Homo sapiens: one gene and its partners. The protein of the gene in region 3 purifies or fractionates together with the protein of the main gene of each other region. This does not show direct contact. Each region holds a gene or a part of one and is shown on either strand. Other genes may lie near its edges. The genes, in order: PDHA1, ALDH18A1, ARHGAP39, PRDX4, COBL, ANP32A and SDHA.

The links.
Region 1: the proteins of ARHGAP39 (region 3) and PDHA1 purify together in Homo sapiens (affinity purification with mass spectrometry, with the first as the bait; one large-scale study listed by BioGRID). This does not show direct contact.
Region 2: the proteins of ARHGAP39 (region 3) and ALDH18A1 purify together in Homo sapiens (affinity purification with mass spectrometry, with the first as the bait; one large-scale study listed by BioGRID). This does not show direct contact.
Region 4: the proteins of ARHGAP39 (region 3) and PRDX4 purify together in Homo sapiens (affinity purification with mass spectrometry, with the first as the bait; one large-scale study listed by BioGRID). This does not show direct contact.
Region 5: the proteins of ARHGAP39 (region 3) and COBL purify together in Homo sapiens (affinity purification with mass spectrometry; one large-scale study listed by BioGRID and IntAct). This does not show direct contact.
Region 6: the proteins of ARHGAP39 (region 3) and ANP32A purify together in Homo sapiens (affinity purification with mass spectrometry, with the first as the bait; one large-scale study listed by BioGRID). This does not show direct contact.
Region 7: the proteins of ARHGAP39 (region 3) and SDHA purify together in Homo sapiens (affinity purification with mass spectrometry; one large-scale study listed by BioGRID and IntAct). This does not show direct contact.

What each region holds. Positions count from the first base shown.
Region 1 is NC_000023.11:19,350,226-19,354,222, reverse strand, and holds part of PDHA1 (pyruvate dehydrogenase E1 component subunit alpha, somatic form, mitochondrial isoform 1 precursor), read right to left. Parts: intron 2,964-3,997; coding exon of another isoform or gene 2,943-2,963; coding exon 2,816-2,942; intron 1,142-2,815; coding exon 1,050-1,141; intron 1-1,049. UniProt on the Homo sapiens protein: The pyruvate dehydrogenase complex catalyzes the overall conversion of pyruvate to acetyl-CoA and CO(2), and thereby links the glycolytic pathway to the tricarboxylic cycle.
Region 2 is NC_000010.11:95,632,420-95,636,459, forward strand, and holds part of ALDH18A1 (delta-1-pyrroline-5-carboxylate synthase), read right to left. Parts: intron 1,231-4,040; coding exon 1,072-1,230; intron 631-1,071; coding exon 540-630; intron 1-539. UniProt on the Homo sapiens protein: Bifunctional enzyme that converts glutamate to glutamate 5-semialdehyde, an intermediate in the biosynthesis of proline, ornithine and arginine.
Region 3 is NC_000008.11:144,577,670-144,581,709, reverse strand, and holds part of ARHGAP39 (rho GTPase-activating protein 39), read left to right. Parts: intron 1-432; coding exon 433-864; intron 865-3,629; exon of another isoform or gene 3,630-4,040.
Region 4 is NC_000023.11:23,677,166-23,681,205, forward strand, and holds part of PRDX4 (peroxiredoxin-4 precursor), read left to right. Parts: intron 1-1,999; coding exon 2,000-2,122; intron 2,123-4,040. UniProt on the Homo sapiens protein: Thiol-specific peroxidase that catalyzes the reduction of hydrogen peroxide and organic hydroperoxides to water and alcohols, respectively.
Region 5 is NC_000007.14:51,187,436-51,191,475, forward strand, and holds part of COBL (protein cordon-bleu), read right to left. Parts: intron 3,644-4,040; coding exon 3,415-3,643; intron 524-3,414; coding exon of another isoform or gene 479-523; intron 1-478.
Region 6 is NC_000015.10:68,810,746-68,814,785, reverse strand, and holds part of ANP32A (acidic leucine-rich nuclear phosphoprotein 32 family member A), read left to right. Parts: intron 1-4,040. UniProt on the Homo sapiens protein: Multifunctional protein that is involved in the regulation of many processes including tumor suppression, apoptosis, cell cycle progression or transcription. Promotes apoptosis by favouring the activation of caspase-9/CASP9 and allowing apoptosome formation.
Region 7 is NC_000005.10:231,426-235,465, reverse strand, and holds part of SDHA (succinate dehydrogenase [ubiquinone] flavoprotein subunit, mitochondrial), read right to left. Parts: intron 1,990-4,040; coding exon 1,821-1,989; intron 323-1,820; coding exon 127-322; intron 1-126. UniProt on the Homo sapiens protein: Flavoprotein (FP) subunit of succinate dehydrogenase (SDH) that is involved in complex II of the mitochondrial electron transport chain and is responsible for transferring electrons from succinate to ubiquinone (coenzyme Q).

The DNA of each region.
Region 1 (3,997 bases), on a different chromosome or scaffold from region 3:
GTGGTGGCTCACGCCTGTAATCCCAGCACTTTGGGCAGATCACGAGGTCCACAGATCGAGACCATCCTGGACAAGATGGTGAAACCCCGTCTCTACTAAAAATACAAAAAATGGTTGGGCATGGTGGCACGTAACTATATTCCCAGCTACTCGGGAGGCTGAGGCAGGAGAATTGCTTGAACCCGGGGGTGGAGGTTGCAGTGAGCTGAGATTACACCACTGCTCCAGCCTGGGCGGCTGAGCAAGACTCCATTTCAAAAGGAAAAATAAAACCTAGGTTTAAAAAAAAACAACACATAATAGAATCTTAATATATTAGAAAGGAAAAGAAACAGTCCGGATATAATTTTGTGCTGTTAATTCTTCATCATTCACTAACTGATGAGAACAAGGACCCCAAAATGAAGTTGACAAGATAAAGCAATTAATGTACTGAAATATAAATAGGAAGGGGAAGGTATGGCTCCACTGCTAGAGGTTCCTGCTTACTTATAAAACAGCAGACACCTAAAAGGAAACATTATAAATCACCATCCAAATCTACTCATCTCTCAAACGGTAGGATATGAAGCACTAGGTCTTTAAAAGCAAACCAAGCCCCCAAAATAGTCACGCGTCACTTAACAACAGGGATATATTCTCAGAATTGCATCACTAGGCGATTTTGTCATGTGAACACCATACTGTAATGCACGAACCTAGATGGTACAGCCCACTGCACACCTAGGCTGTATAGTAGAGCCTACTGCTCCTAGGCTACAACCCTGCACAGCATGTGACTCTACTGAATCCTGTAGGCAAAATATTTGTGTACCTAAACGTAGAAAAGGTAATGTGTTGTGCCACTACAACATCACTAGGCGACAGGAATTTTTCAGCTCCATTATAATCTTATGGGTCCAACATCATATATGCGACATTGACCAAAGCGTCACTGTGCAGCACATGGCTGTACTACTTCAGGAAAAGTTGTCTGGGGCTGTGAAAGTTTTTGAAGACAAAGTCCAGGGCCAAATCTAAAGCAGCACACAATCCTCGTCCTTGACTACCTGCGCTCCCACGATGCCATTGCCCCCGTAGAAGTTCTTGGCATACATGTGCATCGATCCTCCTTTCCCTTTAGCACAACCTCCTTTTCGTCCTGGAAATGGCAGAACATACACATGTGCAGAACAAACCAACTCTACAAAGCAAACCAAACCGCACCCCAAATATGTACTCTGAGGCTCAACCATTAGAACACAGAGGCCAGTTCAGTCGTCTAAGTACCTGTCCCTCCAGGCAAACACATGTTTCTCCTTGTCCTTTCACTAGTTCCATGTGCTTCAACCTTTCCAGCTTTTCCTACTCTCTAGTCACTTAGTTTCCTTCAGATGTTCCATCCAGATGATACCCTGGACTTTTCTGGGTTTTCTGGCCAGTTACAAACATCTTAGGACCTCTCCTATACTAGTACACTAAATATATTCAATCCTTGAACAGGGTTTGAACTGCACAGGTACACTTATACACAGATTTTTTTTCAGCCACACATGTATTGAAAATAGAATATTCTCAGGATGCAAACCCGAAGATATGGAAGGCTGACTTTGGGACTTGAGTATTTGAGGATTTTTGTATACTCGAGGGTCCTAGAACCAATCCCCTGGATATATAGAGGGACAACCATAGTTCAAGAGTCAAGGAGGGCCGGGCACGGCGGCTCACGCCTGTAATCCTAACATTTTGGGAGGCCGAAGAGGGTGGATCACCTGAGGTCAAGAGTTCAAGACCAGCCTGGCCAACATGGTGAAACCTGGTCTCTACTAAAAATACAGAAATTAGCCAGGTGTGGTGGTTGGGCACCTATAATCCTAGCTACTCAGGAGGCTGAGGCAGGAGAATTGCTTGAACCCGGGGGGCGGAGGCTGCAGTGAGCCAAAATCATACCACTTCACTCCAGCCACTCCAGCCTGGGTGAAAGAGTGAAACTCTGTCTCAAAAAAAAAAAAAAAAAAGGAGGAGGAGGAGGACCGGGCACAGTGGCTCACGCCTGTAATCCTAGCATTTTGGGAGGCTGAGGCAGGCCACTGCACTCCAGCCTGGGCAACAAAGCGAGACTCTGTCTCAAAAAAACAAAACAGGCCAGGTGCGGTGGCTCACGCCTGTAACCCCAGCACACTTTGGGAGGCCAAGGCAGGTGGATCACCTGAGGTCAGGAGTTGGAGACCAGCCTGGCCAACATGTTGAAACCCCATCTCTACTAAAAATACAAAAATTAGCCAGGTGTGGTGGTGCATGCCTGTAGTCCCAGCTACTCAGGAGGTGGAGGCATGAGAATCACTTGAACCCGGGAGGTGGAGGTTGCAGTGAGCCGTGATCACACCACTGCACACCAGCCTGGACAACGGAGTGAGACACAGTCTCAAAAAAAAAAAAAAAAAAAAACCACCAAAACAAACAAATAGTCACGGGGGACAAAGAAAAGGGGAATATTAAGAAGATTTCTAGAATTTACATTGCATACCATGGAGTGCTTCAACCGAACTTACTTTCTATGACTGCTAGACTTCTTCTGGCATGCTTGAATGATAACCAAACCTACTGTGATTTTATAGCACCAACCTGTTTTAAACTTTTACCTGAGGGGCCAGAGAACTTCACAAATGGTCAGTTAACTCAAGAGCACAACAGAAGTACCAGAGCACCAAAGGAGAGAGGGTTAAAAAAAGAAACTTAAAATTTTTAACAAATATTAACTCATAATAGCATCTTAATGACAGATATTTAAAAACTTAATCCACTCATTTCCCCTTTCTGTAAATCAACAGCAAACCTGTAAGCTCTGCGAGAATTTCTCGGACGGAAAGGCCCCGGGTGAAAGTAAAGCCGTGAGCCCGGTAGGCTGTGATGAGATGGTCTGTGGGGTTGATGCCGGCCTCCAGGCCCACACAGCAAGCTTCCTGTGTTAGAGGAAGGAGAAACTATGAGGCAATATGATACATGTTTCTAAATAAAAACGTTTCCTAGACCACAGTGAAATATGTGGGCTAGTAGAACCTGTCATTAATAACCAGAGAAAGTAGCTATTTTCCACCAAAATACAGAGTGGAAGGCCCAAACCAGAAGCAATAAACTGGCAACCCACACATGTGCCACTTCCTTCCTTTCTCCTGTATGATGACCTAAAAGAAAAGCCTACATCAGATGTCAACATTAAAACACTGGGGAATTTCACATGAAAATCCAGACTTCCGCCTTCTCTTAGACATGGAAAACAGGAAACATTACCCCTGATTTCCACATGGCACCAACTGGCTGGAACCAAGTCATGGCATTCCTCTGGGTAGGGCATGCTGGTGCCAGTTCAGCATGAGTCCCTGTCACCATTTTCTGTTTTGTATACCTAGCCTTCTTCACTCATTTATTCTACCTGGCTGGCCCTTGTAGGTATTTGACTCTAACCCTTGACCTAAGCCCACAAAACAAAAAACAAACTAATCCTTTCTCTCCAAATTATATACAGTACAGGCGATCATAGTGCCAGAAAGTTTTAAAATAGTAAAACTCTAAGAACAGGTACAGAAAACTGGCAATGTTATGTGTGAATGAATTCTTTAGCCTAAGCTTCATAGCAGGTTTTGGCATTCTACTTTTTAATTCTAAAATACTGGCTTCAGCCAGGCACAGTGGCTCACGCCTGTAATCCTAGCACCTTGGGAGGCCAAGGTGGGCGGACCACTTGAGCCCAGAAGTTTGAGACTAGCCTGGGCAACATAGTGAAACCCCGTATCTCCAAAAAATACAAAAATTAGCTGGGTGTGTTGGTGTGCACCTGTGGTCCCACATACTCGGGAGGCTGAGGTGGGAGGATTGCTTGAGCCCAGTGGACAGAGGCTGCAGTGAGCCAAGATCACACTGTACTCTAACCAGAGGCTGCAGTGAGCCAAGATCACCACTGTACTCTAACCTGGGCGACAGAGAGAGACTGTCTCAAAAAAATAAATAAATAAAAGAA
Region 2 (4,040 bases), on a different chromosome or scaffold from region 3:
CAGTGGCACGATAACAGCTCACTGCAGCCTGGAACTCCCAGCTCCAAGTGAACCTTCTGCTTCAGCCCCGAGTAGCTGGAACCGCAGGCGCATACCACCATGTCCAGCTGACTTTTCTATTTTTTGTAGAAACAGGGACTCACTATATTACCCAGGTTGATCTTGAATTCCTGGGCTCAAGTGATCCTCCCGCTTTGGCCTCCCAAAGTGTTGGGATTATAGGTGTGAGCCACCACGCCAGGACAGAATTGTAAACTTCAAATAAGTGAATTGTATGGTATGTGAATTACATCTCCATAAAGCTGTTATTTAAGGAAAACAACTGAAAGCACCTGGAAGTAACATTTCAGGATTCAAATGACATCTCTTAGACTCACCCACCCTGTTTTGAGTCATAAAAGCCCTTTGTCAGAACATATGGCTAATGATCTATAGCAAAAAAACATCAGAGGGACTCAAAGAAAGAGGGAAACTCATGTGCTCACATATGTAGCATTTAAAACAAAGGGCAGATAAAGGAAAAAAGCATTACTTTGTACCTTCTACATCTGAAAGAACAATCAAGAGATCAGTTTTCATTTCCACAGCCAGTCGGGCAGCCAGGCTATCATTATCTTTAACACTAATAACCTAGAATGCAGATTAAAAAGTCATAAGTGAGTGAGCTAAGCAGTCCAAAAAGAAATTCATGGAAGAACACAGCCAAGCTCAGGCAAAACCAAGCTAGGATCAGGCAAAACCAATGAACCCAAATATGTAGATGACGGCTCTTGCAGGCCCCTTCTGTCTGCAGAACACACTGTCTACTGGCAATCCTTTTTCCAAACATGCAGTCTTCTAGCCACTGAAATATACAAGCCATGCTCATCGCACCATCTTCAGTGACTATAGCACCTCACCCTGTTGAATGCAACCACGAGTTCAGAAGAGCTTATGCAGTCACTGCTCCATGACAAGTTTCTCTCACAACTTTTCCATCTTGTTTATGCCAAACTTCTGGTGTTAGTGCATGCAGCATAGCATGGTGTTAGTGTCTCCAGCATGCTAAACCCTTAGAAATACTTTACCCACATTTACCCCCTGCAGGTCACTGTTGGGCTCAGCTGGGGGGACAACAGCATCATTTGTGTTGACAATGGGGACAATGTTCATTCTAAGGAGTTCATGAAGTGTTCCATTGAGGTTCCGGCGCTTCTGCTCATCATGGAAATCCAAATTGGTCACCAAAATCTAAAAGGATTAAATAGATGGAAAATGCATGAGGGAGAAAAACGCTAAACTTCCCAGTATACAAAAGACGCTAAGAGCAGGGGAGTTAAACTTTAGGTTTCTGGGGCCCCACACAGATTAGAAGATTAGAATGAAATACACATATCTGGGTGCTATCCAATTCTTTTTTTTTTTTTTTTTTTTTTGAGACAGGGTCTCATTCTGTCGCTCAGGCCGTAATGCAGTGGCATAATGTCTGCTCACTGCAACCTCCACCTCCTGGGTTCAAGCAGTTCTCATGCCTCAGCTTTCCAAGTAGCTAGGATTACAGGCACACGCAGCTAATTTTTGTATTTTTAGTAGAGACAGGGTTTCGCCATGTTGGCCAGGCTGGTCTCAAACTCCTGGCCTCAAGTGATGGGATTACAGGTGTGATCCACTGCACCTGGCCCCAATTTTTGTAGAGATAAAAAAAATTACAATAATCTGAAAGATTTATTTAAGAATGTTCAAGACTTCTTGCAAAAGTACTTTAATCCTCAAAGAGCTACCAAATTCCAAAATCTCATCCATTTACAAAATTAAGAAAATTAATGTATCTATTTTAGAGGGATACTGGGGGAATCAGTGATTATCCATTAATTTCTTTTCTTTTTTTATAGAGAGGGTCTTACTCTGTTGTCCACGCTGGACTTGAACTCCTACTCTCAAGTGATCCTCCCACCTCAGCCTCCTGAGTAACTGGGACTAAAGATGCACACCGCTGTGCCCCAGCAATTTCTAAAATATCTCTGTATTCTAGGATCTGATTCAGGGCCTGGCCATAGTAGGCCCTTAAATATTTGGTGAGTGAGTGAAAGTGTATTAGACAAAATGGAATAGGGCTGTGTTGTCACTGCTCTTGCTCTAAAGCAGACTATTACTGGAGTTAACTAAGATTGTGTGTGAGCATGTGGGGTTAGTCTGAGAAATTTATGGAAGTTAGTCTTTGGTCACAAGCTGAAAGGGGGGCAGAACACAACTTGGTTCAAGGGAGGAGATGAGCATAAGGTGCTCAAAGGTAGAATGGAGAGCTGGTGTGTGGGCTGGTAAACAGCTCTGCTTTCTAGCTTAAATCAGAATTTTATGCAATGTTTAGGAGAAAAAGATAAATGGGTGAATGGAGATAGCAAGAAACTAAATGGCAACAAACCTTGAGGCTCAACAATAAATAATGCAATCTCTCTAATGTTTACGGAAGAGCGTTCTTGCTGTGTAGGGCAGGATGAGGTAGGGAAAGCTGGAAGCAAATAGTAAAGAAAGCAGGCACTGAAACAGTCAAAGTGAGGATGGTTAAGGGTCTGGCTATGGTAACTGAGAAGAATATAGCAATAAAACAGTAGCCTTAATGGTATATAAAACACAGGAAACATACATATAGAAAAATAATTCACTCACTCGATAAAAAATTTGTTGAGTACCTCTGAAATGCCAGAGTCTAGCTGCTGGAATGGAGAATAAGAATGTTGATGTCTTGGGGAAAAATAAAATGGAGCATATTTTTGAAAGGGAAGATCATGAACTCCTTTTCAGAAAAGCTTAGTGCTGTTGGACACAGGACTAGGTCCAAACTGAACATATAGATTCTAGTCACGATGGTGAAAGATCAAACAATTAATATAAACCCGTGTGTAGGAGAGACAAGCAGGAGATCTAAAGGTCCAGGAAAAATACCTGTCACCAAAATAGCTTCACAAACATGGCCTGGGGATCTCAGCATGAAGGTAGGAGATAAAGAGTCCCAAGAGGGAAAAGTACGTGTTTAGACAAGCGCAATCTGTTGAGGGAAAATCAGTTTCCCTTCTATGAAGAAAAAACAAGCTGTTTTAAGTGTTTAAGTCTTTAACCTGGCAAACCACCTACTGGAAATTTTCAAAAGCCACTGACAATGGTCTTCTATATAGGATTACTGAAGAAAATAAGGAACCACAGGAAAAGGTACAAAGGGCAAATATTTTCTGTAGATATGATGGCCTTGGGGGAAGACACAGGTGTGAGAGGAAAGAGCCCAGGGGTTGAAGCTTGTTGGGAACTGGAGGGGGCAGGGCTCTTCTTTCACTCAATGTAAATGGAAACAATGGCTGATGCTGCATGGACTCTTAATGCTACCATCATTCAAAACAAAATAAAACAAAAACAAACTCTCAAAAGGTTTCATCCCTGGGAAAAACCAAACCAAAGCAAAACCATAGCTCCCTGACTTGAGCTTCCTCACCTGGCTCCAGGCACTTTAAAAAAATTAAAGACCAAAGTTGTCATTGGACTGTGAAGAGAAACCAAATAATAAAGAAGAGTGATATAAATAGAGATTTATACTGTATTTATACTAACAGAAAAAAAGCTAAGACTACAGAAAGTGGGGTCCCCAGCCATAGGCAATGGGACAAGTCCGTGCCTTTCTGTTTTACCTCACTGACTTGAGGACACTCTGGTGTAATACCAGAACATCACTGTGGGTACAAACAGGCAAATGATGGAGAAACAAAAAAAAGTAACAGGAAATGAAGAAGCAAAACCTGAAACAATATATGTATATATAACAATATCACCTGTGTAAAATAACATCTGTGCATGTAGTGTACATGTAAAATAATATCCATAATATAAAATAACAGCTATTTTACATCTTTACAGGTAAAGGAATTTCAAAATAAAATAATTTGGGAGTTAGATTTTTTTTTCAGTTGTTTCCTGAAGTGACTGTTATTGAGATGTCTCTAGTGTGTAGTTGTACAGTTGATTAAGAATATAATTCAAAAAAATTCAGGAGATTTAGGTAAAAATGAAACAAT
Region 3 (4,040 bases):
CCCCTCCAGACCCCGACCCAGTGTGGAGGTGGCGGTCCAGTTGCAGCGGAGGGGCTACTGAGCAGGTGTGCAGTGATGACTCGCAGGCCTGTGCCACGATCCTGCAGGACGGAGCAGTGGGCAGTGAGGTTGTGGCCTGGGTGCCTGTGAGGACAGGAGCCTGCAACCACAGCCAGTATGTCCCTACCCCACGTGGGGCCCAGGACCCCCCAAAGGGCTGCACCACCCTGAGGCGCTGGCGGCTCCGGGGGCTTCCCCGGTTGCGGGTGCTCAGGAGCACAGCAGTCAGGGGCGGACTGGGCTTGGGTTTGCTTTCCTCTATGACAGGATTTCTGGGTTTCGCAGCTGGGGCTGGAGCCGGGGTCTGCAGGGGTGGGAGGCGCGGGCCCAGGCCGCCGTGGCTCCAGCCGCCTTAACCCTGTCTCTCCCCAGGTTGGAGTGGGTGGAGATCATCGAACCGCGCACCCGCGAGCGCATGTACGCCAACCTGGTCACCGGTGAGTGCGTGTGGGACCCGCCGGCCGGCGTCCGCATCAAGCGCACCAGCGAGAACCAGTGGTGGGAGCTGTTCGACCCCAACACGTCCCGCTTCTACTACTACAATGCCAGCACGCAGCGCACGGTGTGGCACCGGCCGCAGGGCTGCGACATCATCCCGCTGGCCAAGCTGCAGACGCTGAAGCAGAACACGGAGTCCCCGCGCGCCTCGGCGGAGAGCAGCCCCGGGCGCGGCAGCAGCGTCAGCCGTGAGGGCAGCACCAGCTCCTCCCTGGAGCCCGAGCCCGACACTGAGAAAGCGCAGGAGTTGCCAGCGAGGGCCGGGCGGCCCGCGGCGTTTGGGACAGTGAAGGAGGACAGCGGCAGGTGAGGGCGGGGGCAGCTGCTATGGGCGGGGCCAGGTGAATGGAGTGGGCGGGGCCAGGTGAGGCAGGTAGGGGGTGGTGGGCGGGGCCAGGTGAGAGCGGGACTGGTGAAGGTGGTGGGCGGGGCCAGGTTAGGAGTAGGTCGGGTATGGTGGGCGGGGCCAGGTGAGTGGAATGGGCGGGGCCACGTGAGAGCGGGACTGGTGACGGTGGTGGGCGGGGCCAGGTGAGGAGTAGGTCAGGTATGGTGGGCAGGGCCAGGTGAGGGCGGTGGGCGGGGACCCAGGGGACTCAGTGTCCCCGCGAGTGGCCAGAGCCTCGTCCTTGGCTGTAGCAGCCACCGCTGCTGTCCCCAGTGAGCACTTTCTTGTCTCTCTGGGCAGCAGAGCCTGGCGCTCAGCCTCAGAGGGTTCTGGGTCCTCCAACCCTGCCCCTCACTGGCCCAGCCCCTGGCAGGTGGTGGTTCCTGAGAGCAGTGTCTGAGGGGCTCGCCCAGCTCTCTCTGCTGATGGGAGATGCAGATGTGGGGATTTGCGTGCGGGCGTGGGGTGTGTGGACCTAGGGGGACCCAGGTGGAGGGTGTAGATCAGTGTGGACACAGCTGAGGGGTCTGAGCAGGCTTGGAGGTGGTCCTCTGGAGTCACAGTGGCTCCGAAGGAGCACAGCCTGTGTTGGTGGGAGCCCAGGAGACCCCTGCCCTCAGAAACAGGGAGAGGTCAGGGTAGAGCGCAAGGGCCTCGAGGTGAGTGCACCGTGGGAAGCGAGTCCAGAGAGGACGGTGGGGAAGAGCCGAGGCAGGCGGGCAGGACAGTGGGGAAGGGCTGAGGCAGGCGGCAGGCCAGCAGGACAGTGGGGAAGAGCCGAGGCAGGGACAGGAGGCTGGGGCTTCCCAGAGCCCAGGCTGTGGCCCAGGGCAGACAGGCCTGGCCACTGCAGGGGCGGATGGAGGCCACTCTGGAGAGGATGGAGGAGAGGCTGGACCCCAGGGAGAGAAAGGCAGGGGATTGGTCTCCCCCAGTACCAGATTTTCGGTGCTTGGCTGAGGTTGCCAGGGGAGCTGAGGCCCAGGGGCTTTCTGCAGAGGTGGGAAGGAGCGTGTTGGACTGCCGGGCTCATCTGAGGCTTCAGAAGAGGGATTCAGAGTGAACCACAGAGCTCAGAGGACAGCAGGCTTCCGTCCCACCGTGCCGAGGTGCAGGCACAGAGGGAGGCGGGCAGCAGGTTCATCCCGTGGACCCGGTCTGGCAGGATGAAAGGGAGGCCAGGGATGGGGCCTGCTGCAGAGTGGGCAGGAGGTGGGGCAAATCAGGTGTGGAGGAGCCACTGGAGCACACCGGGAAGACGGTGTTGGTGTCGGTATTCAGGGCAGGGTGAGCAGCGGAGGCTCGGGCGTGGCGTGGGTGAGCGAGCGGTGCAGAAGGCGGGCACAAAGAGGACCAGGGCCTACATTTCACATCCCACCAGCAAATATGAGGGTTCAAAGTTATCCACGGCCTTGCCAACACTACTTGCTTTCCTTTTTAGATTTCTTTTAGCTATTGTAGCCACTGTGAAATGTCTCATTGTAGTTTTGGTTTGCATTTCCTTAATGACTAATGACTTTGAGCCTTTTTTCACTTTCTTTTTTTTTTTTTTTTTTTTTTTTGAGACAGAGTCTCGCTCTGTCGCCCAGGCTGGAGTGCAGTGGCACGATTGCTGCTCACTGCAAGTTCCGCCTCCCGGGTTCACACCACTCTCCTGCCTCAGCCTCCCGAGTAGCTGGGACTACAGGCACCTGCCACCACGCCCAGCTAATTTTTTGTGTTTTTAGTAGAAACAGGGTTTCACCATGTTAGCCAGGATGGTCTTGATCTCCTGACCTCGTGATCCACCCACCTCCCAAAGTGCTGGGATTACAGGCATGAGCCACCACGCCTGGCCCCTTTTTTCACTTTCTTGATGGTATCATTTGAAAAACAAAGGTTTTTGTTGTTTTTGTTTTGTTTGTTTGTTTGTTTGTTTTTGAGACAGGGTCTCTCTTTGTCTCTGGGGCTGGAGTGCAGTGGTGCAATCTCACTGCAGCCCTCACCTCCCGGGCCCAGTGACCTCCCACCTCAGACCCCCAAGTATCTGGGACTGCAGGCACGTGCCACCACACCAGGCTAATTTTTGTATTTTTTTTGTAGAGATTGGGGTTTCACTATGTTGCCCAGGCTGGTCTCCAACTCCTGAGCCCAGGCAGTATGCCCACCTATGCCTACCAAAGCACTGGGATTACAGACATGAGCCAAAGTACATGAGCCAAAGTGTGCATGGCCAAAGTACAAAGTTTTTAATTTTGGCCAAGAAAAGTGGCACACGCCTGTAATCCCAGCACTTTTCAAGGCCAAGGAAGGCAGGAGTTTGAGGCCAGGAGTTTGAGACCAGCTTGTCCAACGTGGCAGAACCCTGTCTCTACTAAAAGTACCAAAATTAGCTGGGAGTGGTTGTTCACACCTGTAATCCCAGCTACTCGGGTGGCTGAGGCAGGAGAATCACTTGAAGCCAGGAGGTGGAGGTTGCAGTGAGCCGAGATCGCACCACTGTACCCCAGCCTGGGTGACAGAGCAAGACTTTGTCTCAAAAACAAACAAACAAAAATTGACCTGTCATAGATTTGGGTTCATTTCTGGCCTCTCAATTGATTTGCATTGATCCATATCCCAGTACCACATTGTTTTGATCACTGTAGCTTTGTAATAAGTTTTGAAACTGGAAAGTGTGAGTCTTCCAGCTTTATTCTAATTTTTCAAGGTTGTTTTGGCTATTTGGAGCACCTTGCAATTCCACAAGAATTTGGGGATTGGCTTTTTCATTTCTTTTAACAACAACAAAAAAAAAGCTTTTGGAATTTTGGATCTGTGTGGGGGATTGTGTTGGATCTGTAAGCTGATATTTCATCCAAGCAATATTAATTTTCTAATCCATGAACAGAGGATGTCTTTTCATTTGCTTATGTCTGATTTTTCTTAGCAGTGTTTTATATTTTCTAGTTTACAGTCCTTTCACCTCCCTGGTAAAGTTTCTTCCTAGATATGTTATTCTTTTTGATGCTGTTGTAAGTGGAATTTTTTGTTTGTTTGTTTCTGGATTGTCCATTGTGGTGTATGGAAACATAACTGATTGTGTGTTGATCTTGTATTGTGCAACTTTGCTGAA
Region 4 (4,040 bases), on a different chromosome or scaffold from region 3:
TACATTCTCAGCCTGATAGGGTTCACATCAACCAGAAATTTCTACTTGGGTGTCAGAACTGGGGCTCCAGATATCTAGAGCAATGTCGTTTTGTTTTCTATCTGCTGTGTCAGTACCCTCCTGTTAGAGCATCAGCCCATGTCTCCTGGTTTCAAGTTACAGAATACAGATTGAGCGTCCCTAACCTGAAATCCACAGTGTTCCAAAATTCAAAATTTGAGTGCTGACATGATGCTCAAAGGAAATGCTTAGTGAAGCATTTCAGAGTTCAGATTAGGGATGTTCAACCAGTAAGTATGCAGATATACCAAAATCGGAAAAAATCCTAAATCCAAAACACTTCTGGTCCCAAGCACTTCCGATAAGGGATACTCAACCTGTAGTGAAGACTGAGGCATCTGATATTATAACTCACTTCCTTCACTGCTTCAAGTGGACTTTGCATTTGTCTCTCAGAATATTAAAATGTCATCCATTTGTATCCTGCCTGTCTGTTCAAGGCTTTATCTTATGATCACACTACTAAGGTTATGCTTTTGATACTACGTATCTTTTGATCTATCAGTTTCACTTTCAGAAATCAATTAGACAAGTGTATAAAAGTAAGAATACAAGGATGTTTTCAGCAGTGTTTATAAAGCAAAAAAAAAAGGTAAATGGTTTAAATCTTCATCATGGAATTAAGTAAAATACAGTAAAGATGTTCCTGACTTACGATGGTTTGACGTATAATTTTTCAACTTTACAGTGGGTTTATGGGATAGTAAATACATTTTTAGCTAATGATATTTTCAATTTATGATGTGTTTATCAAGACACAGCCCCAGCCGGGCACAGTGGCCTGTAATCCCAGCACTTTGGGAGGCCAAGGTGGGCGGATCACCTGAGGTCAAGTGTTTGAGACCAGCCTGGCCAACGTGGCGAAACCCCATCTCTATTAAAAATACGAAAAATAGCTGGGCGTGGTGGCGGGTGCCTGTAATCCCAGCTACTTACAAGGTTGAGGCAGCAGAATCACTTGAACCTGGGAGGCAGAGGTTGCAGTAAGCCAAGATCGTGCCATTGCACTCCAGCCTGGGTGACAGAGCAAGACTCCATCTCAAAAAAAAAAAAGAAAGAAAGAAACAACCCCATCTTAAGTCAAGGAGTATCTGTGTATCCATACATTAAAAATGTGTTATAGGCCAGGCGCGGTGGCTCACGCCTGTAATCCCAGTACTTTGGGAGGCCAAGCCGGGTGGATCACCTGAGGTCAGGAGTTCGAGACCAGCCTGGCCAACATGGTAAATCCCTGACTCTACTAAAAATGCAAAAATCAGCCAGGTGTGGTGGCACATGCCTGTAATCCCAGCTACTTGGGAAGCTGAGGCAGGAGAATCGCTTGAACCTGGGAGGCAGAGGTTGCAGTGAACCGAGATCACGCTGCTGCACTCCAGCCTGGGCGACAGAGCAAGACTCCGTCTCAGAAAAAACAAAAATGTGTTGTAGGCTGAGCACAATGGCTCACGGCTATAATCCCAGCACTTTGGGAGGGTGAAGCAGGAGGATTGCTTGAAGCCAGGAGTTCGAGACCAGCCTGGGTAACAAAGCCACACCCCATCTCTACAAAAAAGTGTTTAAAACATTAGCCCAGTGGGATGGTGCACACCTGTAGTCCCAGCTTCTCAGGGGGCTGAGGCAAGAGGATCGCTTGAGCCTAGAAGTTTTAGGCTACGCTGAGCTATGATCACGTCACTGCCCTGCAGCCTGGGAGACAGAGCAAGACCCTGTCTCAAAAACATAAAATAAAAATGTGTTGTGTATATATATTTTTAATGTTTAAAGGATATGAATATATTAAATGGGAAAAGCAAGAAAATAGAAAGTATATTAGCCTGTTTTTGTTAGTGAAAGAATGTGTGTATTTCATGTGTGTGCGTGTGCATGTATAGAGAAAGAGTGCTGTTTTAATATATGCCGTTTACTTAGCTCTGAGAGGTAAGCGTTCTGTTTGTTACAGGATTAATACCCCTCGAAGACAAGGAGGACTTGGGCCAATAAGGATTCCACTTCTTTCAGATTTGACCCATCAGATCTCAAAGGACTATGGTGTATACCTAGAGGACTCAGGCCACACTCTTAGGTACCTTTCAGTGGTTTTATATTATGACAAATCCAAGCGTGTTTATAATCCTCCTTGAAATAGATGTTATTTATGAAATAGAAGAACAAATTTTGATCAAGAAATATAATTTTGAGGCCAGGCACGGTAGCTCAAGCCTGTAATCCTGGCACTTTGGGAGGCCACGGTGGGCAGATTACTTGAGGTCAGGAGTTTGAGACCAGCCTGGCCAACATGGTGAAACCCTGTCTCTACCAAAAAATATAAAAATTACCCAGGCATGGTGGCGTATGCCTGTAGTCCCAGCTACTCGGGAGGCTGAGGTGGGAGAATTGCTTGAACCTGGGAGGCGGAGGTTTCAGTGAGCCCAGATCATGCCACTGCACTCCAGCCTGGGCGACAGAGTGAAAAAAAAAAAAAAGAAATAATTGGCTGGGCATGGTGGCTCACGCCTATAATCCCAGCACTTTGGGAGGCCGAGGGGGGCAGATCATGATGTCAAGATATCGAGACTATCCTGGCCAACCAACATGGTGAAACCCCATCTTTACTAAAAAATACAAAAATTAGCTGGGCATAGTGGCATACGCTTGTAGTCCCAGCTACTCGGGAGGCTGAGGCAGGAGAATCGCTCGAACCCAGGAGGCGGAGGTTGCGGTGAGGCGAGATCACGCCACCGCACTCCAGCCCAGGCGACAGAGCAAGACTCCGTCTCAAAAAGAAAAAAAGAAAGAAAGAAAAATGTTACTTTGTTCTATTAGTCTTTAAACTACTAAACTTAAACCGTTAGTTTATATTACCCTGATTAAACTATGTTAGCATCATAGACTTTTAGAGCTGGAAGATTATTTAGAGGTCTTTCACCCACCCTGTCATCTTACAGATAAAAGAGACAGATTCATAGAGTTCCGTGATCTTAGCCAAAGTTATATAATAATTTAATTGCAGAGCCCAGACTTAAATCCAGGTCCCCCAACTCCTTGTCCATTTCTTTTTCCTTTTTTGCAACCTGACTCCAGTAATGTTTTTTTCTAAATACAAGTGTCATACTACTTAGCAAACCTGTGTCTTTGGAGTAGGAAAAATTAAGGAAATATTTTACCCAGACGCTCTCACTGGGTTACTTGAGCTAACAAACATTAATAGAATTCTTTGAAAAGGGGGCAATTTTAGTGTGGAACAGTTGTAATTTGGTTGTATTGATTTGCTTTGTAGTGCCAATAGTTTTTCTTGAATGTTTTATGTGAAAGTGTCAGTATTTTATAATCCTGTGTTTTTTTATAACAACTTTATTGGAATATAGTTCACATATAATACAATACCCATTTAAAGAATACAATTCAGCTGGGCATGGTAGTTCATGCCTGTAATCCCAGCTCTTTGGGAGACCTAGGTGGGAGGATCCCTTGAGCCCAGGAGTTTGAGACTAGTCTGGGCAACATAACAAGACCCTTGTCTTCTACAAAAAAAAAAAAATAATTTTTTTTTGTTAAATTAGGCCATTGTGGTGGCACATTCCTGTAGTCCCAGCCTACTCAAGAGGCTGAGATAAGAGGATCGCTAGAGCCTGGAAGTTCAAGGTTGCAATGATCTATGATCACACCACTGCACTCTCGCCTGGGTAACAAGAGTGAGACCCTGTCTCTAAAAAAATAATTAAAATTAAAAATAAAGAATACATAGCCGGGCGCAGTGGCTCACGCCTGTAATCCCAGCACTTTGGGAGGCCAAGGCAGGCGGATCACGAGGTCAGGAGATCGAGACCATCCTGGCTAACACGGTGAAACCCCATCTCTACTAAAAAAAATAGAAAAAATTAGCCGGGCGTGGTGGCGGGTGCCTGTAGTCCCAGCTACTCGGGAAGCTGAGGCAGGAGAATGGCGTGAACCCTGGGGGGCGGAGTCTGCAGTGAGCCGAGATCGCGCCACTGCACTTCAGC
Region 5 (4,040 bases), on a different chromosome or scaffold from region 3:
GGAATAAATGCAAAATCTGGACTAATCATTTGCATACTTGTCTATGACAGAAAAGGTTAAATTTTAAAATCCATACTGTCCCAAATTCTGTAGCATGCAGGATGGCCTTCAGGGGCAGGTAAGCATGGGCAGGCAGAGGTGAAAAGGAAAGGGTGCCTTTCCTGCGCACACCACTTCTGATCTGCCCTGAATTATTGGGCAACAGAATTTGTTTTCTGTAACAGCCTCCCTCATTTCTCATCAATTAGAGCCACACAGCAAATTCTCCTAAGAAGCATTCTTATCTGAACCAACCAGGGAATCAAGAAACCAAACCAAAATCTCATGTCAGCCTCGCATGCACCTTCAGGAGGGCCCCAAGCCAAACTTCCATTCCTTGGAGTCTGGCACAAAAACATCACCTCTGTGCAGCTCTGACCCCAGAGCCATGCATAGTGCAGCCTCACAGCGGGAGCGGGAAGCCCCAGGTTCACTGTACCTTGACAGCTCAGGGAAGGCTCGGACTGAGTTTTGCTCAGACGAACTGGAAAAGGCAGGCAATGAGAGAGTGAGGTCCAGCTTTGAGATGTGTGGGAGTCCCTGACCCAGGCCTTGGCCCTCACAAGCCTCAGAGGGGGGCTGTCCTGCTGCAGCAGTGAGAAGGTCTCTTGCTGGGTCAGCTTGCCTCTCTGGGCTGGCCCTCTCAGGGCCACAGCTGCATAGCCTGCTAAGCACCGCTGAGGACGCAGGTGGCAGCAGAGCCCTTGGCTTTATCAAGATGCTCCCACCGGGGATTCCAGGGGAGGGCAGGCCTCTGCGTAGCAATGCCTCACCTCCTGCCAGCTGCCCTTCTGTTCTCCAGCAGTGGTAGGGCTCAGGAGTGGACGTCTGTCCCCTCCAAGTGCCTACCAAGAGGATTGAAAGTAAGGGCTCCTCCAGCAGTACCCAGCAGGCCTGCCCAGGGCGGTTGTAGGGGAGAAAGGGAGCCTCGGAGATGGCCTCTGGACAAGTGTCTTTTCTTTTCGAATATTTGACAGTGAGCAGGAGGCAGGCATTTGGCAGGGACGGTAATCAAATGTCACAGCTGGCATGGCACAGGCATGGTCCAGACGAAAGGGGTGCTGGCCACAAGGCTGGAGCAGAGCCCCCATGGTGGGGAAGCTCGTGGTGCCTTGGGGGTGGGGTGGAAAGGGCCAAAATGTCCAAAGGAGTAGAGAGGGGGACTTGGAGGTTTGGGAGCAGCTAGTTCCAACCAAGGGCAGAAGTGCTTCCAAATCTGAACGGCCAAGCTGACCGCACCGGCTTGTTCTGCTCTGTCCCATATGAGGATCAGAAGAGATGCTCTGGGCCCCTGACCACATGAACACTTCAGCTCCTACATTCCCAATGACCATGGGCTATCCTGGGTCCTCTCCTTCACAGACAGGCAGGTTTTATATCACTTCTCCCAAGTGCCAGGTTCAACATCTACCTTTCAAGATACATCCAAGTGGTAGCATGTAACAGAAACACTTGTAAGCCTTTTTATTTCAGATACCTGAACGTGAAACAGTTTTCCCTTTATTTTTCTTTTTATCTTAACAAATGGAAGCTGTTTCCAAAGAGTCATGTAAACCAAATTTAAATAGTGCTGATATACTCAGTGCCACCAGGCCTTTGCAGCAATACTGAGACTATTTCTGTCTGTGTTTTAAAAAAGACACTGGATAAAACACAAGATGCATTATTCTCAAATGTCAGAGTACTTTTTTTGAAGAAATAAACAGTCCATGTATCTTATACTCAACTGAGCCAAAACCCTCTCTTGAATGTCAAATCAGATCTAGATGCCAGATACCCAGGAAGACAAGGGCGGACTTGGCGGGGAGAGGAAGGCTGGACAGAGATTCCACTATGATCATGGATTTCACAATAAACTTGGTATTAAGAAAAAATATGGCCAGGCGCAGTGGCTCAGGCCTGTAATCCCAGCATTTTGGGAGGCCAAGGCAGGCGGATCACCTGAGGTCAGGAGTTCGAGACCAGCCTGGCCAACGTGGTGAAACCCCGTCTCTACTAAAAACACAAAAATTAGCCGGGCATGGTGGGAGGTGCCTGTAATCCCAGCTACTCAGGAGGCTGAGGCAGGAGAATCACTTGAACCTGGGAGGTGGAGGTTGCAGTGAGCCGATATTGCACCATTGCACTACAGCCTGGGCTATAAGAGTGAAATTCCATCTCAAAAAATAAAAAAAAGAGAAAAAATACATTTTTGTTGGAAAAAATTAGAAAAAAAAGTCATAGAAAAACAGGAAAAACTTGAATATGTATATATTTTTTAAACTCAACCTATTCAATATTTGTGGAATAATGAAACAGAGACAACAGACATCAAATGAGGCTTATTAGAAGAGAAACTTTTACGAAGTCCATTTTGATCATTCTAAGGTCAAGGAATATAACATTTCCTTTGGCCTGACAGTAGCAGTTAGCACTCTATATCAATCAGAAACATGTGCTTACACAACATAACAGTCTCTGCACCAGCAAGGCCTCTGGGCTGCCACTCTCACCAGTGGCTCTAACTGTGGCCTCATACTAAAAGCCAGTTTCACATGATGAGCAAGCAGGATGACACTGGCAACACAGTGAGGAGGCCTAAGGTGGCCCTAAAGTTATCTTCAGGAATGGATCTCACGCACTGTAATTGTTCAGTTTTAGAGAACAGCTAAATGAATTTCTGCCACTGGTTTTAGACATGAGCAATGTTTGAAACCTGGGAACAGCAGTTAATGGCAACTGAAAAAGAAAATCAAGATAATTTTTTTTTTAAAGAGACAGGGTCTCACTCTGTCACCTAGGCTGAGGGCAATGGTGCAATCATAGCTCAGTGCAGCTTCAACCTCCTGGGTTCAACCAATCCTCCAGCCTCAGCCTCTCCAGTAGATGGGACTACAGGAATGGGGATGCACCACCACGTCTGGCTAATTTTAAAATTTTTTTGTAGAGACGGGGTCTCACTATTTTGTCCAGGCTGGTCTTGAACTCCTGAGCTCAAGCCATTCTCCTGCCTCAGCCTCTCAAAGTGCCAGGATTACAAGTGTGAGCCACCAACCCACAAGAAAGTATTATAGATGGTTTGGAGTAGTTACTTCAGAGCATAAGCTCTAATCTCACCTCACCTTTTCCCCTTTTACTTATGTCGTGGAAGTTTGCAGGGAGACAAAGGATAAAGGACATGTTCAGGGCTGGGAGAAAGGAGGCACAGCTCAATCCAGAGGAATGAAAACAGGCCAGATTTCTTTTTTGCCTACTTCAACTTGACTTGCCTGGAACTTCATGTACCCATCTCTCCCTGGCGCTACTGAGAGTGCTGGGGAGAGCCAACAGGGGACATGTACACGCCGCGCATCCGTGTGATTATGGGCAGGTGCGTGAGACGCAGCGGGGCCTCACCTCTTCTGTTGTCCCACGCGTAGAGCTCCTTTATCCCGAGCTCGTTCAGGGACTTGGACAGCTCCAGCTCCTCTCCGGCAATGTTGTCCCTGAGGAGAACCACGTGCTCTGGGCTGACCTCACACTTTGCACAAATGACTGGGAGAATATTCTGGAGAGGAACCTCAGGGCTCACACGCACAACAGCTTTTTGTGTCCGCAGGTAATTCACGACCAAACGCACAGATTTCTGGAAGAACACACAGGCAAAAAGAATTCAGTAAGATATCCTCCCACAAGCCTTCAACTCTTGTGTCAATTTGACAATTGGGTGTGGCAGGATTGTGTGTAGCCTGAATCCTTCTTCCACAAATTGAGTGAGTAATGGGGGAAAACAGCATAATGAATATTGAAAAACAAATGTCTAGAATAATAAATCTGGTTTAGAATCTCTTGCTAGTGAACAAGCTGCTAACAACACAGCGAAATAAACATCAGGGAAGACTCTACATTTAAAATCCAACACATATACTTTACTGTCTTCCAAGGGTTCTGGCCAGATGTGAACACATGGCACTTATATGCATTTTCTAAAAAAAAAAGTTTGGAAGCAGTATGAATAATTTAAAGAAAAACCCTCCAAAAAC
Region 6 (4,040 bases), on a different chromosome or scaffold from region 3:
GGAATCTCTAGTTTTTGGCCTGCTGCTTTTCTACCATGCGTGTTTCCTGGGGAATGAACCAGCAGCATAGTGGCTTTGAGTTTCAGAAGTTTTTCCCTCTAGCGTCTTGTGCCTGAGCTAATGAACGGAAGGAATGGTTATAAAATTGGCCAGGTCAAGGGGAGGAGGAGATAAATTCAAGGGGACAAATCCTAGTCCCCATAACAGCAGCCTGTGTTATGACAGCACACCACAGCCCCAATTCCCTCTTTCCTGCTGCTGCTGCACCACCAGCCTCTCAAGGTGGCTTACTCTAGACTTACACAGTTGGCCATCTTTCTTTTTTTTTTTCTTTCCCCATAGCAGTATGAGACTTGTTTCCTTTTTTATTTATTTATTTTATAATTTTTGTAGAGACGGGGTTTTGCCGTGTTGCCCAGGCTGGTCTCAAACTCCTGGACTCAAGTGATCTGCCCACCTTGGCATCCCAAAGCGCTGGGATTACAGGTGTGAGCCAGCGTGCCTGGCCCCCTTCTTCAATACCATTGGAAAGACATCTGCTTGAGCTTTCAGAGCTGTCCATCCCAGAGCTTGGGTCCAAATTAATTACATCACATTGAAATAAAAAACTTCCTGGAGGCTGGGTGCAGTGGCTCACGCCTGTAATCCCAGCACTTTGGGAGGCCGAGGCGGGTGGATCACGAGGTCAGGAGATCAAGACCATCCTGGCTAACACGGTGAAACCCCGTCTCTAGTAAAAATACAAAAAATTAGCCGGGCATGGTGGCGGGTGCCTGTGGTCCCAGCTATTCGGGAGGCTGAGGCAGGAGAATGCCGTGAACCCGGGAGGCAGAACTTGCAGTGAGCAGAGATCGTGCCACTGCACTCCGGCCTGGGGGACAAAGCGAGACTCCGTCTCAAAAAAAAAAAAAAAAAAACTTCCTGGAAATTGTGTAGGATACTCTTTAGACATCTCATGCCTTTGCTATTTTGGTGCAGTCACTTAGGAAAGGAGCCGGGAGCTTGTTGGTGATTGGGCCCTGGCCCAATGAACGTGGCCCAATTGTCTGGCCTGAATTCTAACTTAGTTTAAGAGGAGGCTCATAGCTCTGGTGTCTAGAGAGGCATTCCTTTAGAAATGTTTGCCACCAGCATCCCTCCTCTTTGTTTTGGCAGTCCATCCCTTACTCTAGCTAGTTCTCTGGTCTCCTAGGAACTACCCTCTCCCAGTCCCCCAGCACCACTGCCTTCAAGTAGAGAAACATGGACCTGACTCTGAATCTTCTATAGCTTTGAAATAGAATTATACAACAAATGATAAATACCCAACAATGATGTTTTCATTAAAGAGATGGAGTCTGGCAGGGACAGAGATTTGTGAAGGCATCTGTTATTCAGAACTTCTCATTTAATAAAATTTGTTGAAACTAGATGAGCAAAGCACCATGGCCCTGAGCCACCTTCTCAGACATGGAAGCAGCCTCCTTGTCTAGAACTAGTTGTCCTGATGATATACAGACTCTAAGGAAGATAAAAGTCCCTTTATTCTACCACACCAAGCCCTGTCCTGGGCCTGCTGGGCCACACCCTGCAACCCAGTGCTTTCCCTCAGATTTATTTTGTTTTAGCTCCACAGCTGCCCCCTGAATTCATTCAGCTACTGTTTCCTTTACCAAAACTTGCTCCAGGCAGCAGATCTAAAAGATCAGCTTACTTACTACTCCACTGTTATTTACTCTAATGTGGATTAAAGTCAGCACTGTTTTTCCCAGAGGTATTTACATTTGGAGATTCTGGTTTGGTGAGGAAATTACCAGAGAACTATTAAAGACTTGGATGCTCTTCTCGGCTTTGCTATTAAGTAAGTTGGACAAGTTGTTTGGCTTCTTTGAGCCTCTGTTTTCTCCATTCTGAAATTCTAAAATGGGAGTGTTGAATTAGATCAGTGGCTTTCGAACTTTCTGCTCCTAGTAGTGAGAAATACATTTTACTCCACTCCCTGGTATGTACACGCATTCCTGTGTTTTGTGAAAAACCGACACCATGCTCCTCCCTCACTACATGTAAAACACTTTTATTCATTAAAAAGAAAACTGACTGGCTTGGACCTACAAATTAGTTTCATTATTTGTTAATGTTTGAAAGCCATTAAAAGATGAATATTAAGGTTTCTTTATACTCAATACTTGTAGTTTTGTTTGGGGGAATGAGAGGATGCCCTTGGTACCTTTGTGAGGCCTCTCCACTGAGGGTCAATCATGACTTCTGTTTTAAACCAGCCCATCCCATCTTCTCCAGCTGCTCTCCTTATGTCTTGCTTCTCTCCCCTCCAACCTTCTCAGCATAAGGACTCAATCCTAGGCTCCTACCCCAGACGGGTGCCTTCCAACGTTCCTGGTGCCAGTGGCCCCCCATCAGCCATGTTCCCCCAGCCCCTTCTCCACACTCTTGTCACCCAGGGCCCCATCCTTCAGTGCATTGCACACTTTGCATGCTGGGTCAGGGAAGATTGTGGAGAGAGGACAGTGCACCTGGTTTCCCCCACATAGACTGCGTGGGGGTATGTCCTGCTTCCGCCACTTCCAACTGTGGCACTTGGGCACGCCCCTCTCAGGGCACCTTCCCTTTTTGTCTCCGCAAAATGAGGTTGTAATAGTGCCTGCCGCACTGTCTGGCACACAGTAAGCTCTCAAGAAATGTTAGCTGTTGTTGCCGTTAGAACACCATAGCTAGAATACCATACCTGGCATTCACTTAAAAAAAAAAAAAACAACTTAGGGCCAGGCGCAGTGGCTCACGCCTGTACTTCCAGCACTTTGGGAGGCCAAGACAGGCAGAGCACCTGAGGCCAGGAGTTCAAGAACAGGCTGGCCTTGTCTCTACTAAAAATACAAAAAAAAAAATCAGCCGGGTGTCGTGGCAGGTGCCTGTAATTCCAGCTACTCTGGAGGCTGAGGCAGGAGAATCGCTTGAACCTGGGAGACGGAGGTTGCAGTGTGAGCCGATATCGTGCCACTGCATTCCAGCCTGGGCAACGAGCGAAACTCGGTCTCAAAAAAACCCAACTTACATTATCCGCAGACACATTACATACAAAAGTAACCATTTTCTTTCAATGGGAAAGGAGGTTTAGAAGCTAGAGATTCAAAGTTACCAGGAGTTACTTTTTCCCACTAGGAATTCACTACAGTCCTGACATTGGACTCTAGGTAGTTTCTACTGAGGGTAAGTGACTCGTCCCTCTTCTGGGCAACTCTTTTTCTTACTGCCCTCAGCAGCTATTTCAGGCCTCCACCCCTTCCCTCCCGGCCAGGACGTCCTCTTCACAGAAAATGGAAACCTCCTGGTTTCTTAAGTAGTTGTGAGGCTGAACCTGCCTTAATCCCTCCCAGTTCAGTGGTCTTCTTGTCTTGTCCATCCCTCCCTCAGTTCCCTTGTTCCTCCTGGGCACCTAGCCACTCCTGTCCTTTGGATTCTTCTCCAGCTGGGGATGCTTCTCCCATCTTAAAGCAAAGACTCTAATTGATCCCGTGTTGCGCTGTAGTTACTGCCCATCCCACTCTTCTCCCTACTCCCTAAACTTTCTGAATTGTCTATCTTCTCCATCCTGTCACCTCTCTTACTCCACCACGTGAAGTCTGGTTTGCTTCCTAAATAGTGCCAAGAATCCCAACAGCCTTCATTTCTTATCTTGCATGATGTCTCAGTGGCGGGATTCAGCATTCTTTTTTTTTTTTTTTTTTCCCAGACAGAGTCTCACTCTGTGGCCCATGTTGGAGTGCGCAGTGGCTTGATCTCAGCTCACTGCAACCTCGACCTCCTGGGTTCAAGCGATTCTCGTGCCTCAGCCTCCCGAGTAGCTGGGATTACAGGTGTCCACCACCACGCCCGGATAACTTTTTTATTTTTAGTAGAGAAGGGGTTTCACCATGTTGGCTAGGCTGATCTCGAACTCCTGACCTCAAGTGATCTGCCTGCCTCGGCCTCCCAAAGTGCTGGGATTACAGGCGTGAGCCACTGCGCCCGGCTGGGATTCAGCATTCTTGACTTTATGATAGATG
Region 7 (4,040 bases), on a different chromosome or scaffold from region 3:
AACAATACAGTACTTTCTTGAAGGAAACATCTATCTTTTCCTGTAAGATCTAAAGAGACAACTGCGAGGTGGGCCCCGTCGTCCCAGCCTTCTTTCCAGCTGTGGGGGAGGAGCCAGCACCATCACCTGCCCCTTGTAGTTGGTGGGAATGCCGCCCATGTTATAATGCACGGTGGGGAGGACAGGGATCGGCTCCTTCGTGACGTCCACGCCAGCGAAGATCATGGCTGTCTCTGAAATGCCAGGCAGGCGCGTGGCCAGCTGCTCTGGAGGTAGGTGGTGCAGCTGCAGGTAGACGTGATCTTTCTCAGGGCCACAGCCTCTGGTAAGACAGAACACCATCACATACGGCAGAGAACGGCAACGGCAGGAGACCTGAGAATACGTCATCTTGGAAGTGTGTGAGTTTCAACATGTTTTGATACTGAGGAAAATTTCCCCTCATGTATGGTCACCCTCTCATCAAATCTTTTCTAAGCAGCTACTGTGTGCCAGGGACAATCCCAGGTGCTGGGACACAGCTGAGAACCAGAACAAAAACTCTGCCCTCACTAAACTCACGCTCGTCTCAGGGATCACAGCCTGCTGCAGGTGTCCTTGGTAAGTGCATTAGAAAGGCCTCTATGCCAAATACAGTCGTCCCTGCGTATCCGTGGCAGGTTGGGTCCAGGACCCCCACGGATACCAAAATCCGTGGATGCTCAAGTCCCTAATATAAAATGGGAGAGTATTTGCATATAACCTATGCACATCCTCCTCTATACTTTAAATCATCCTCATTTCAAGTTTTACGTTTAAGTTTTACAGCAACTCCAGGATGACTCATAGTACCTAATACAATGTAAATGCTACGTAAATAGCTGTTACACTGTATTGTTAAGGGAACAATGACAAGGAAAAAAAGTCTGCATATTTGTAAGGATGCAATTTTATTTTCAATACATAGTTGGCTGAAACCACACATGTGGAACCAATGGGTACGGAGGGCCACCATATTCCAAAAAACCATTTGACTTCTCTGTTTTTTTTTTTTTTTTTTTTTTTTTTGAGACAGAGTGTTGCTCTGTCGCCCAGGCTGGAGTGCAGTGGTGTGATCTCAGCTCACTGCAAGCTCCGCCTCCCAGGTTCACGCCATTCTCCTGCCTCAGCCTCCCGAGTAGCTGGGACTACAGGCACCTGCCATCACGCCCGGCTAATTTTTTGTATTTTTAGTAGAGACGGGGTTTCACCGTGTTAGCCAGGATGGTCTCGATCTCCTGACCTCCTGATCTGCCCGCTTCAGCCTCCCAAAGTGCTGGGATTACAGGCGTGAGCCACTGCGCCCCACCTGACTTCTCTGTTTTTTTAATATAAAAATGTAAAACCTCTAAAGGCCATACCAGCAGATATTTAGCAAATGTCATTACATTAAAGAACAGGGTCAGGCAATGAAAGAGCTGCAAACTGTTTTACTGAAAGCCAAATAACCCACACACTTTGAAAGCTGCCAAAAAACATCTGTGGGTATCAGACACAACACCCAAGGCTCACATGCCGACTTCAGGTTGGGTGTGTGTCTCTCTCTCCCATACTCCGTCACATACTCACACACACTAAGAGAAACTCTGTTCCACAGATTTGAGAAAGAAACTGGCTAAAATTTTCAAAATGTAGGTCTTTAGGAAAATATCGCAGACTAACAGACGCCTGCCAGCAGCTAAGAGAGGTGGCTGTGCACATGCGCCTGCACACGAAGGTGAGGGCGAGCGGTGCTGAAACTCACAGAAGCAACCCCGGCCCGTGTGCCCGCTCAGACAGTGCTGGTGGTAAATCACACGCACCTTCCTTCTCGGATCTCCAGAGTCATGGACCGAGACACCACATCTCTAGACGCCAGGTCCTTCGCGACAGGGGCGTATCGCTCCATAAACCTTTCGCCTTGACTGTTAATGAGAATGCCTCCCTCTCCACGACATCCTTCCGTAATGAGACAACCAGCACCATATATGCCTGCAAAAAACCACACATATTTATTACCTAACAATTGCTAGATCTCTATTTCAAATGCATTATTTTTTTCAAGACATTTTTTGGGGGAAAGAGGAAAAAGATAAGCAGAAGGCATTATGTGCAAAACTGCACAGCAAGACAGTTAAGATACAGTAGAAAGTCTGGATAACAAAAAGCACTGACAAGGCTGACAGCTGCAGCAGAGGCTGGGGCAGAGCGGTGTCCCCAGAGAGGAGAAAGGCCGGCCCACAGACCTCTGGCCAATACTCTGATTACAGCCCAGTGTACGTTGGATGCCTCAAATTTTGTTTTAATTTTTGAACATTCTTTTGCACTATGATACTGTGGTGACTAGTTAAGAATACTAGCTTGAAGTATTCATATCTAAATTATCCAAACAGTGACAAGGACAGTAATAATGATTATTTTAGATAATATTTACACTGCACTTGCTATGGGCAGTTCTAGCTGCTTTCCACATATTAACTCGTTTAAGTCTTACAACAACTCTGGGTAGTACGACCCCCTTTCTCAGTGACAAGCAAATTAACACTTGGTAACATCCAGTCATGCAGCTGAGGACAGAGCTCAAACCCAAACCTGGGTAGTCCGGCGGTCTGTGCTCCAAACAGCGGCTCTGTGACTCCTCAGTGCGATGAGAAACAGGGCATGCCAAGCTCTCGAATTTTAACAAAGGAGATCAAAAACCCTAAACTAAATGTATTTCGAAAGCTACAATTTTTATTAGTATACAAAAAGGGCAATCTTGCTTTTAAAAAACGAATGTGATTCTTGTCTGTCTTTTGATTTTCTAAGTTTCAATGCTCTTTTTTCTGTGGTTACTTCTCACATACTGAAGACAAAGCATGAGCAGTGGAGCTCTAAGCAAATTACAGAGGGAATTCAGGGGCTCAGTGACATTTTATTCATTAAAAACAGTAATAAAAAATACAACAGGCCGGGTGCAGTGGCTCATGGCTATAATCCCAGGACCCTGAGGGGCCGAGGCAGGAGGATGGCCTAAGCCCTGGAGTTTGAGACCAGCCTGGGCAAAACGGTGACATCCCGTCTCTACCAAAAACGAAAAAACCCTCGAAAATTAGCTGGGCATGGTAACACATGCCTGTAGTCCCAGCTGTTTGGGAGGCTGAGGTGGAAGGATCGTTTGAGCCTGGGAGACAAAGGCTGCAGTGAGTCAAGATTGCTCCACTGCACTCCAGCCTGAGCAACAGAGCAAGACCCCATCTCGAAACAAATAAAAAAAAAACACTACAACAAATTCATTTCTTATTTTCATCCCTTCCAGGGATCAGAAAGCTGACACTGACAGAGAAAGAGAAGACACAGGTCTGGTTCTTTGGCACCACTTCAGAGGTCTCCATCGTCCACAGGTCAGAAAAGCAACCCAGAAAAGTATAGGACAAGTCACCTCAAACAAGAGGCAGGTGTGTGTCTGTCTCTGACTCATTCTGAAGAACCTCCTCCAAACTCAAGACTTCAACTGTCATTTCTGAGTTAATGTCTCCGAATTGCACATTCGTAACCTCAACCGTCAGACGTCCCCAAGACGAGCTCATCTTCCCCACGACAAGCTCTCTCAGTGGTCACGTGGGCTGAGCCCAGCGCCCAATGTCACATGGGGTTCTGTCACGGCTGCGTCCTAACTTTACATCCCATTGTCACAGAAGCTCCGTGTTCTCCTACAAAGCTGAAGTCTGCCTGTGCTGCTTCTCGGTTCCATGGCATTCTCCCAGCTCTCAGAATGTTCACTCAGTAAACCCCGGTGGAGACCCTACCATGTGCTGGGCATGGAGCACCACAGCTAACGAGAAGACCTGCCTGCCCGAGGAGCTGACGACCTCGTTGCGAAGAGGGACACTGAACAATCCCTGCTTTACTTTTTTTTTTTTTTTTTTTGAGACGGAGTCTTACTCTGTTGCCCAGGCTGGAGTGCAGTGGCGCGATCTCGGCTCACTGCAACCTCTGCCTCCCAGGTTCAAGCATTCCTCCCACCTCAGCCTCCCAAGTACCTGGGATTACAGGTACACGCC